Homo sapiens: one gene and its partner. The protein of the gene in region 1 purifies or fractionates together with the protein of each later gene. This does not show direct contact. Each region holds a gene or a part of one and is shown on either strand. Other genes may lie near its edges.

Region 1 (3,814 bases):
TGCCCAGTGTCACTTCCTCTATGAATCTTTTCCTGATGGTGATGCACAGCCCTCTTCTCTCACCTCCTTCACCTCTTTCACACCTTCAGATTTGACCCAGTAGTCTCGCAACTGACTTATAGCAGAGCACTTGTTACAAGACTTATTTATTACACCCATCATGCCCTTTTACACTCCTTGAGGGAATTTCTCCAACACCCAGTAGAGTACCTAGCATCGAGTAGGTGCTCAGTAAATGTTTGTTCATCAATGGGATAAGTGAGTGGGTTAGTAAAACCTATTTCTTTGATGCATGTGTTGCTTTTTTTTAAGACAAAGACTTTATTTTTTTATTTTTAAAGTTATTATTTTTTTATTTTATTTTTGTTTTTATTTATTTATTTTTTATTATACTTTAAGTTTTAGGGTACATATTTTTTGAGATGGAGTCTTGTTATGTTGCCTGGGCTGGTCTTGAACTCCTGGGCTCAACTATCCTACTGCCTCAGCTTCCAGAGTAGCTGGGACAACAGGTGTGCCACCATACCTGGTCATGTGTTTCTTCTTAAGCAGCATGTAGATGTTCTTAAAAACCCTTTACATAGTTTTTTGTTTGTTTGTTTGTTTCTAGTGGGTATCTATCCCACTTATTTTGTTTTCTCTTTCTTGAAATAACAGGGGAGACGAGACAAGTCAGACCTGTGGGTGAGCTGGAGTCAGTTCAGGGGTGATTGTCAGGGGCTTGTTCTTCGGTAAGGAGAGTTAACCTTCCCTGTGCTGGTCCCATCTAGGTAACTGCGTCATTGATTGGCTGGTATCCAACCAGTCTGTTAGGAATCGCCAGGAAGGCCTCATGATTGCTTCATCGCTGCTCAATGAGGGGTATCTGCAGCCTGCTGGAGACATGTCCAAGAGTGCAGTGGATGGAACTGCTGAAAACCCTTTCCTGGACAACCCTGATGCCTTCTACTACTTTGTAAGAAAAGCTCCCCATCTCTTCTTCCTGTAAGGGAGGCTGCCCTGAGCAGATTCTAGATTGATTTCAGTTCATAGACATCTATAGAGCGCTGTTAGGCAGCGGGTAGGGAGGTCAGCCAGGAAGAACAAGGGAATACCTGAAGCTCCCAGGCCCATTTAGAGCTTCTGTTATACCAGCATTTCCCAACTCAACAGCTGCCCTCTCTACAACACTCGCCCTGTCCAAGTGAATTTGTTATTATAAAAGGATACTACTGTTTACTTGAAAAAAAATTTTTAAAGGACATTTTAAAGTTTATTGTTTCCTATTTACTTATTATTATTTTTTATTTATTTAGATGTAGTCTTGCTCTGTCACCCAGGCTGGAGTGCAGTGGTGTCATCTCGGCTCACTGCAACCTCCGCCTCCCGGGTTCAAGCGATTTTCCTGTCTCAGCTTCCCGAGTAGCTAGGATTACAGGCATGCGCCACCACACTCAGCTAATTTTCGTATTTTTAGTAAAGACAGCGTTTCACCATGTTGGCCAGGCTGGTCTCGAACTCCTGACCTCAAGTGATCCACCTGCCTCTGCCTCCCAACTATCTATTCTTATTCTAAGCAATAATTCATTTATAAAACTGTCTTAGACCCTAGTCCATGGCAAGCATTCTCTAAGACAAGAAGATACAGCCACGTAGACAAGCGTACTGGAGGGACAGGCAAAAATCCTGCCCTACTGCAGCTTCCTTTCCAGACAGGAGTCTATAAATCACAGGTTTGATGTATTAAGTGCATTATTCCAAATGTATGTTAAAACACATGACTCTTAATACAAAATGTGTCCACAGATGTCACTTCCTGCAGTCATCTTGTGTACCTCCCACAGTATGCTTACCCACGATTGGGAAACACTATATTATACAATGTGAACCTGTTCTTAGGCCATGTGAGCAATGGTGGATTTCTTGGGGGATTTTGGCAGTTTTGTTTCTATCTTGGATCAGAGCACAGAATTTAGGAAGTTACCTAAGAGAACCATTCTTCTTATAAACATGAAGTGAACACCCTAGAGGGTTTCATTTCACTTTAGGGGAAGTTCCACAGTCTGTTTTTTTTTTTTCTTCAGTCCTTTGATCTGGTCGTTTATAGCCATTTCAATGCAGGATTCTAAAAATACCCATCACAGTGGCTCCTCTTCCTCGGTCTGATTCATCATCTACTTTTGCTGAGCAAGTCCCACTTCCCTCATAACCTCAGGGGAAGAGGCTGGACACATGCTGTCACTTTTCTCCAAGAGGGGGCTCAGTGGCAAATGTTGAGCTGGTGATAGTATTGCCAATGAGAAATTAGCCTGCCCTGCTTTCAAGGATGTGACCATGATATCCCAAGAGAAGGAAGGCTTTGAAGGCAGACATGTGCCTGGTTAGGAAGATGGAGCTAAAGTTAGGATACAGCTTGGGAGACCCTCCAGAATAAAAGGATATTGACAAGATCACACCTGAGTGGAGACAAGAAAGGAACAGCCCCGGAAGCAAGTAAAAGGAGGAGGAGAAACTCGCTCATCAAGGACCTTTGAAGTTCAGATTGGGATGTACACAGGAATGGAGGAAAAAGGAGGAGGCTGCCCTCATGGCTGGAGGGGAGGGGGAATGGAGATGGCACAAGTTGCAATGTGCCTAAGACTGGTGATGTTAGCTTGCTGTTTGATTTTCCAACAGCCAGACAGTGGGTTCTTCTGTGAAGAGAATTCCAGTGATGATGATGTGATTCTGAAAGAAGAATTCAGAGGGGTCATTATCAAGCAGGGATGTTTACTGAAGCAGGTGAGTGGCCACAACTGCTCCCATCTAGCCTTTTCCCTTTACAAGGTCCTTTTTGTTTCTAAGTTACCCAGTGACTTTTGGTTTGTTTGGTTAATAGTCAAGCAGAAAATGAAACCCACAAAGTGAAAGATAGATGAGTAGCTCTTTAGATATCAAAGTGGCTTTAGATCAGGAAGATTGAGTTTGACAGGGCAGAAGATGTCCCTAAAAGTAGGAAAATGCCTCTTTTATCAATATCATAGGAAAAAAAAAGGTGTTTCAAGAAAAATATGGCCGGAGGAGATAAATTGTCTAAGAGATGCCATCCAAAAGACAAAGCTGTCTCATGGTAAAAGTACTTCCATTTTACCTGTCCCTCCTCCCTTCAAAGCAACCAGGAAAACAGGAACAGGCTACACCCAGAAGAGGAACAGAGTACACCACTGAGAGCAAAGAAGAGTCATTCCAGTCTGTGCTTAGGGCATGACAAGACCAAAACCTGGGCATGCAGAGGCCAGTTCACAGGAACAGCAGGCAAAAGTCAAATGCAGATTGAGGGCATGGACAGAGTCCTGGGGGGATGTCCAGGTGTCCACAGGTACAGGCCACCATCAGTCTTGGAGGCAAGGGCTGGAGAGTGCTGAGGAGCTCTAGTCGGTTACCAGGTGCCAAGGCATATGATGCCAAGAGGTAAGAGATGGACAGGGGCCAAGATGACTGAGGAAGCCAGGACCAGTACCTGGTGGAGGAAGTCGCAGGAAGACATGAGAATATTCAGGGGGAAGCTAGTTGATACTTGCACAAGGCATCTTAGAGGCCAAGGCTGCTTTGCAGGACCAAGGTCTTGCCTTCCTGGCTGCACTGTGAGCTGCCTTAAAAGTGCTGCTCAGTATATAATGGAGAGAATCTGTTGCCATCAGGAGATTTCCATGTACTGTCTATAGGCTCCACGGGACTGGGGGATCTGATTTATTTCATGTTAGGACCCTGAATGTCCATCTTAGTGATTAATGGAATGGGCAAGGAGGGAAGAACCAGAGAAGAGCCCATATTTACATTTATAAAGAGGGACTCT
Region 2 (3,814 bases), on another chromosome or scaffold:
CTTTTGTAGAGATGGGGGTTTCACCATGTTAGCCAGGCTGGTCTCGAACTCCTGAGCTCAAGTGATCCACCTGCCTTGGTCTCCCAAAGTGCTGGGATTACAGGTGTGAGCCACTGTGTCCACCAAATGCAGTTTATTTTAAATGCGTAAACTCTGTAGCCCAACTGCCCAGGTCTGAGTCCTGGTTCTGCCTCTTATGAGCTGTGCCTCAGTTTCCTTCTTTGTTAAATGGAGGTGAGAATAATAATGATCTCTTGGAGTCACCGAGAGGATTAAATGAGTTATTACCTGTCAACCAGCGATGCCATGCCTGGCACATACTAAGTGTCTCTTTTGTGTCAGCTGTCATTTCATTATTATTGTGATAAGGAATAAGGAGATAAGAACTTGGCAAGTGCACAGTTCCAGACCTGGCACCAAGCACTTGCAAAGATAATGAGTATCCCCTCCTTTGCCTTTTTAAAATTTCCCTGCCTCAGTTGAGCGTTTCTACCTCTGAGTGGGATGAGCATGCACCCTCCACGTCCGTGGTCATGTTTCATAGTGAGACAGGGTCTCACTGTGTTCCCCAGGCTGGTCTCAAACTCCTGAGCTCAAGCGATCTTCCCACCTTGGCCTCCCAAAGTGCTGGGGTTACAGGCATGAACCACCTCACCTGGCCAGTTTGCAAATTTATTAAAGTGAATGTTTAACAGTACTTGAATCTTGAATTGCCCAAGCTTAGATATTGGACAATACACTTTGTGGGAAATAATAAAAATGATGCCTTCCCCAGGTGGACCCACAGGGTGGCATTTGGACACTCCAGAAAGCATCATTGTTTAATCATCAAAATCCTGGTTACCATTTACTGGGGAGCTAGGGAGGAGGCCCATAAAGCAGGAGAAGGGCGGGTCTCTGCTGGCTTGGGTTATAAATAGCTTTGGGCTGTGGGGAGCCCCGCCGCTGGTCCACCCCACCCCTCTTTCCACAGCTCCTTCCCACCTGACACGGGCTCCGTGGCATTAGTCAGACTAATTAAGGACACAGAAGATGTCGGTGGAAAGACTCAGAGAGAAGTGGAGACTCAAGGAGAGACAAAGATGGGAGAGACAGCAAGAGATGGGGGAGAAAAAGGGATGGAGAGATGAGAGACAGCACATGAGACTGTGACTCAGAGAGGTGTGAGGATGGTGGCTGCAGAAACCAGATGTGGGAGGACAGAGGCACAGAGACAGGGACAGGACAGACGGAGCTACAGAAGCAGGAAGGGGGTGTCACCGCTGAGAGGGAGAGATGGAGGGAGGAGAGGCAGGGATGGTGGGGAAAATGAGACAGTTCTGGAGGAAGGGAAAGAGAAAAATCAGGAAACAGGGTGAAAAGAGACCAAGACATGAGACAGATTCAAGGGACAGACAGCCAAGGAGAGCTGGCTGCGGACAGACCAAGGCGCACGTAGGGTGGAGGGGACAGACGCACCTTGGAGATGGGCTGTCTGAGGCCCCATCACTTGGTTTCTGGGACTGGAAGCCTGGGAAGAGATGAGGTCCCTGGGGGAAAGAAGAACTTCTGGGTTTGGGGACTCCCAGTCCCTGAGGGAGGAGGGTTCTGAGTTTTGTTTTCTTATGTGGAGAGTTGGGGGTTGGGGGTTTGCCATTGTGACTTCCTGTCACAGGAAGTGGGGCTGGTGGGTTCCAAGGCAACATCCTGTCCCAGGCCTGTCACAGACCAGAGGAGACCCCTGCACCCCACTTCTCTCCCGCCTCTCCTCTAACCCTCCCATCCCCTCTTGCCTCTGGGCTGTGCCCTCAGGAATTAGCCCCCAGGCCCCTGGTCCCTCCAACCTGGGAGTCCAGGCCCCCAGCCCCCTCTTCCATTAGGGCATTAGGGACCCCAGATTGCAGGCTGTCAGACTCAGCCTTCCCATGGACCCAGGCTCCTGAGCCTCCAACGCCTGCCCCCGCAAGGCTCCCGTCCCTGGGCTCCCGCCCCCTGGCGGGTCTCTGAAGGGCTCTTTGTGGCCACACAGAGGCCCCATTGAGCTGCGGAGGCTGGGATGGGGGAGGCTGTTTACTCACCTTCACACCTGGGCCAGGAATCTGTGAGTAACCACCCTGGGCCGCCTCCTCCCACCCTCCTAACCACAGCCCCTCCTCTTCCTCCAGCCCTGCAGAGCCCAGGGAGATGGAAGACTTCGCCCGAGGGGCGGTGAGTGGACAGAGCAAGGGGTGAGGCGACTCTGGGGCTGTGGGTGGAGAGTCCTGTGGACTGAAGCTGCCCTCCCTTTCCACAGGCCTCCCCAGGCCCCTCCCGGCCTGGCCTGGTTCCCGTCAGCATCATCGGGGCTGAGGATGAGGATTTTGAGAACGAGCTGGAGACAGTGAGTGGGAGATAGGGTGGAAAAGCTCTGTCCCAGGCTCAGTGTCCCGCCCCAGGTCCCCTCCCACCTGCAGATGCTGTCTTCTTGGCCTTTTCCCACGGTCTGTCTCATCCTCTCATCTCCCTGGTACCTCCTTCCTCACCTCGCCGACCCCACACAGCAGCATAGACGCCCACCCTTCTTACTCTTAACCCCATTTCTTATCGTTGCTCTCTCCTCCCCCAGCATGGACCCCAATTTCTTCTCTCCTAATTTCTGTCCTCATCATCCACCATTATAATATTAAGTCTCATCCATTCTCCCTGAACACCTGCCCTTGCTGTCACCATCATTTTTTGGACACTGTCACCACTCCCCACTTCCCAGGAGCTAACCCTGGCTTGGATCCCTTGTGAAGTGCCAGGAATGGGTAGGGTCAACCCTAAGGCCCCTCCTCTTCTCCCCATTGTACTCACCCCTTCCTGCACCCCCAGAACTCAGAAGAGCAAAACAGCCAGTTCCAGAGCCTGGAGCAGGTGAAGCGGCGCCCAGCCCACCTCATGGCCCTCCTGCAGCACGTGGCCCTGCAGTTTGAGCCAGGACCCCTGGTGAGGGCAGGGCTGGGTGGGCACAGGGAGGGGTGGGGCTGGGACAGGCACAGCTTTTAGCGAATTAAACCAGCGAGCTAGTGCCTGGAGGGTCTGGAAAAGCAGATCTAGAACACAGAGAGCCAGATCTAGAAAGAGAGAATGCTTTAGACAAGAGCCAGAAAGCATGCCACGTGACCTCAACAGGCTTACAAGTGCCCAGGGTAGATCTCAGTGCGCAGCGGGCAGGGTACACACGTCAGGACCCCGCGGAGCCACAGAGAGTCCAGCAGCCTGGCAGAAACCACATCCCATCCCACTCTGTGCCTGTGGCAGCGCCCCCATCAGCCTGTGGCAGCACCTTTCCGTGAACTCTAGGGGACCAAATTCTTCTCTCCAAAGCCTTTTTGGCAGATGCCAGCACGCAGTCATTCACGGTTGATGGTTGGGAAAAAGAAGCTGTTAGCCATCCCAGGTCTAGGGAGCACAGCAGGCCCTGATCTGGAAACAAGAAAACCACCACACACAGCTCACAAGGCAGACCACACAATTGTGGATCCAGAAGCCTCCGGATGAGGCAGAAGATACCTGGGAGATGTGGATGGACAACCGTGCCATCCAGAAACACCCGCAGAGTCTAGAAAACCCAGCAGGTGATTTAGAAAGGGAGAGGCCACAGTGCTGGCTGGCAGGGGATCTGTAGACAAGGGTCTCATCCCAAGAAGACCCCGTCCAGCCCAGCACAGGATAGGAGGACAGCCTGGGGACAGCCAGGGCACTGCACCATGTGGACATGCATAGTGGACCCCTCCAGAAAACAAGGAAACCGATAGAGTGGGGAGAAGTGCCCGAGGCATGCAGAAAGAAGAACATGTCAGCTGCAAGACCA

The links.
Region 2: the proteins of PLEK (region 1) and ARHGEF1 purify together in Homo sapiens (affinity purification with mass spectrometry; one large-scale study listed by BioGRID and IntAct). This does not show direct contact.

Annotation. Positions count from the first base shown.
Region 1 is NC_000002.12:68,385,732-68,389,545, forward strand, and holds part of PLEK (pleckstrin), read left to right. Parts: intron 1-770; coding exon 771-955; intron 956-2,655; coding exon 2,656-2,760; intron 2,761-3,814. UniProt on the Homo sapiens protein: Major protein kinase C substrate of platelets.
Region 2 is NC_000019.10:41,885,920-41,889,733, forward strand, and holds part of ARHGEF1 (rho guanine nucleotide exchange factor 1), read left to right. Parts: intron 1-2,144; coding exon of another isoform or gene 2,145-2,163; coding exon 2,164-2,187; intron 2,188-2,272; coding exon 2,273-2,359; intron 2,360-2,832; coding exon 2,833-2,946; intron 2,947-3,814. UniProt on the Homo sapiens protein: Seems to play a role in the regulation of RhoA GTPase by guanine nucleotide-binding alpha-12 (GNA12) and alpha-13 (GNA13) subunits. Acts as a GTPase-activating protein (GAP) for GNA12 and GNA13, and as guanine nucleotide exchange factor (GEF) for RhoA GTPase.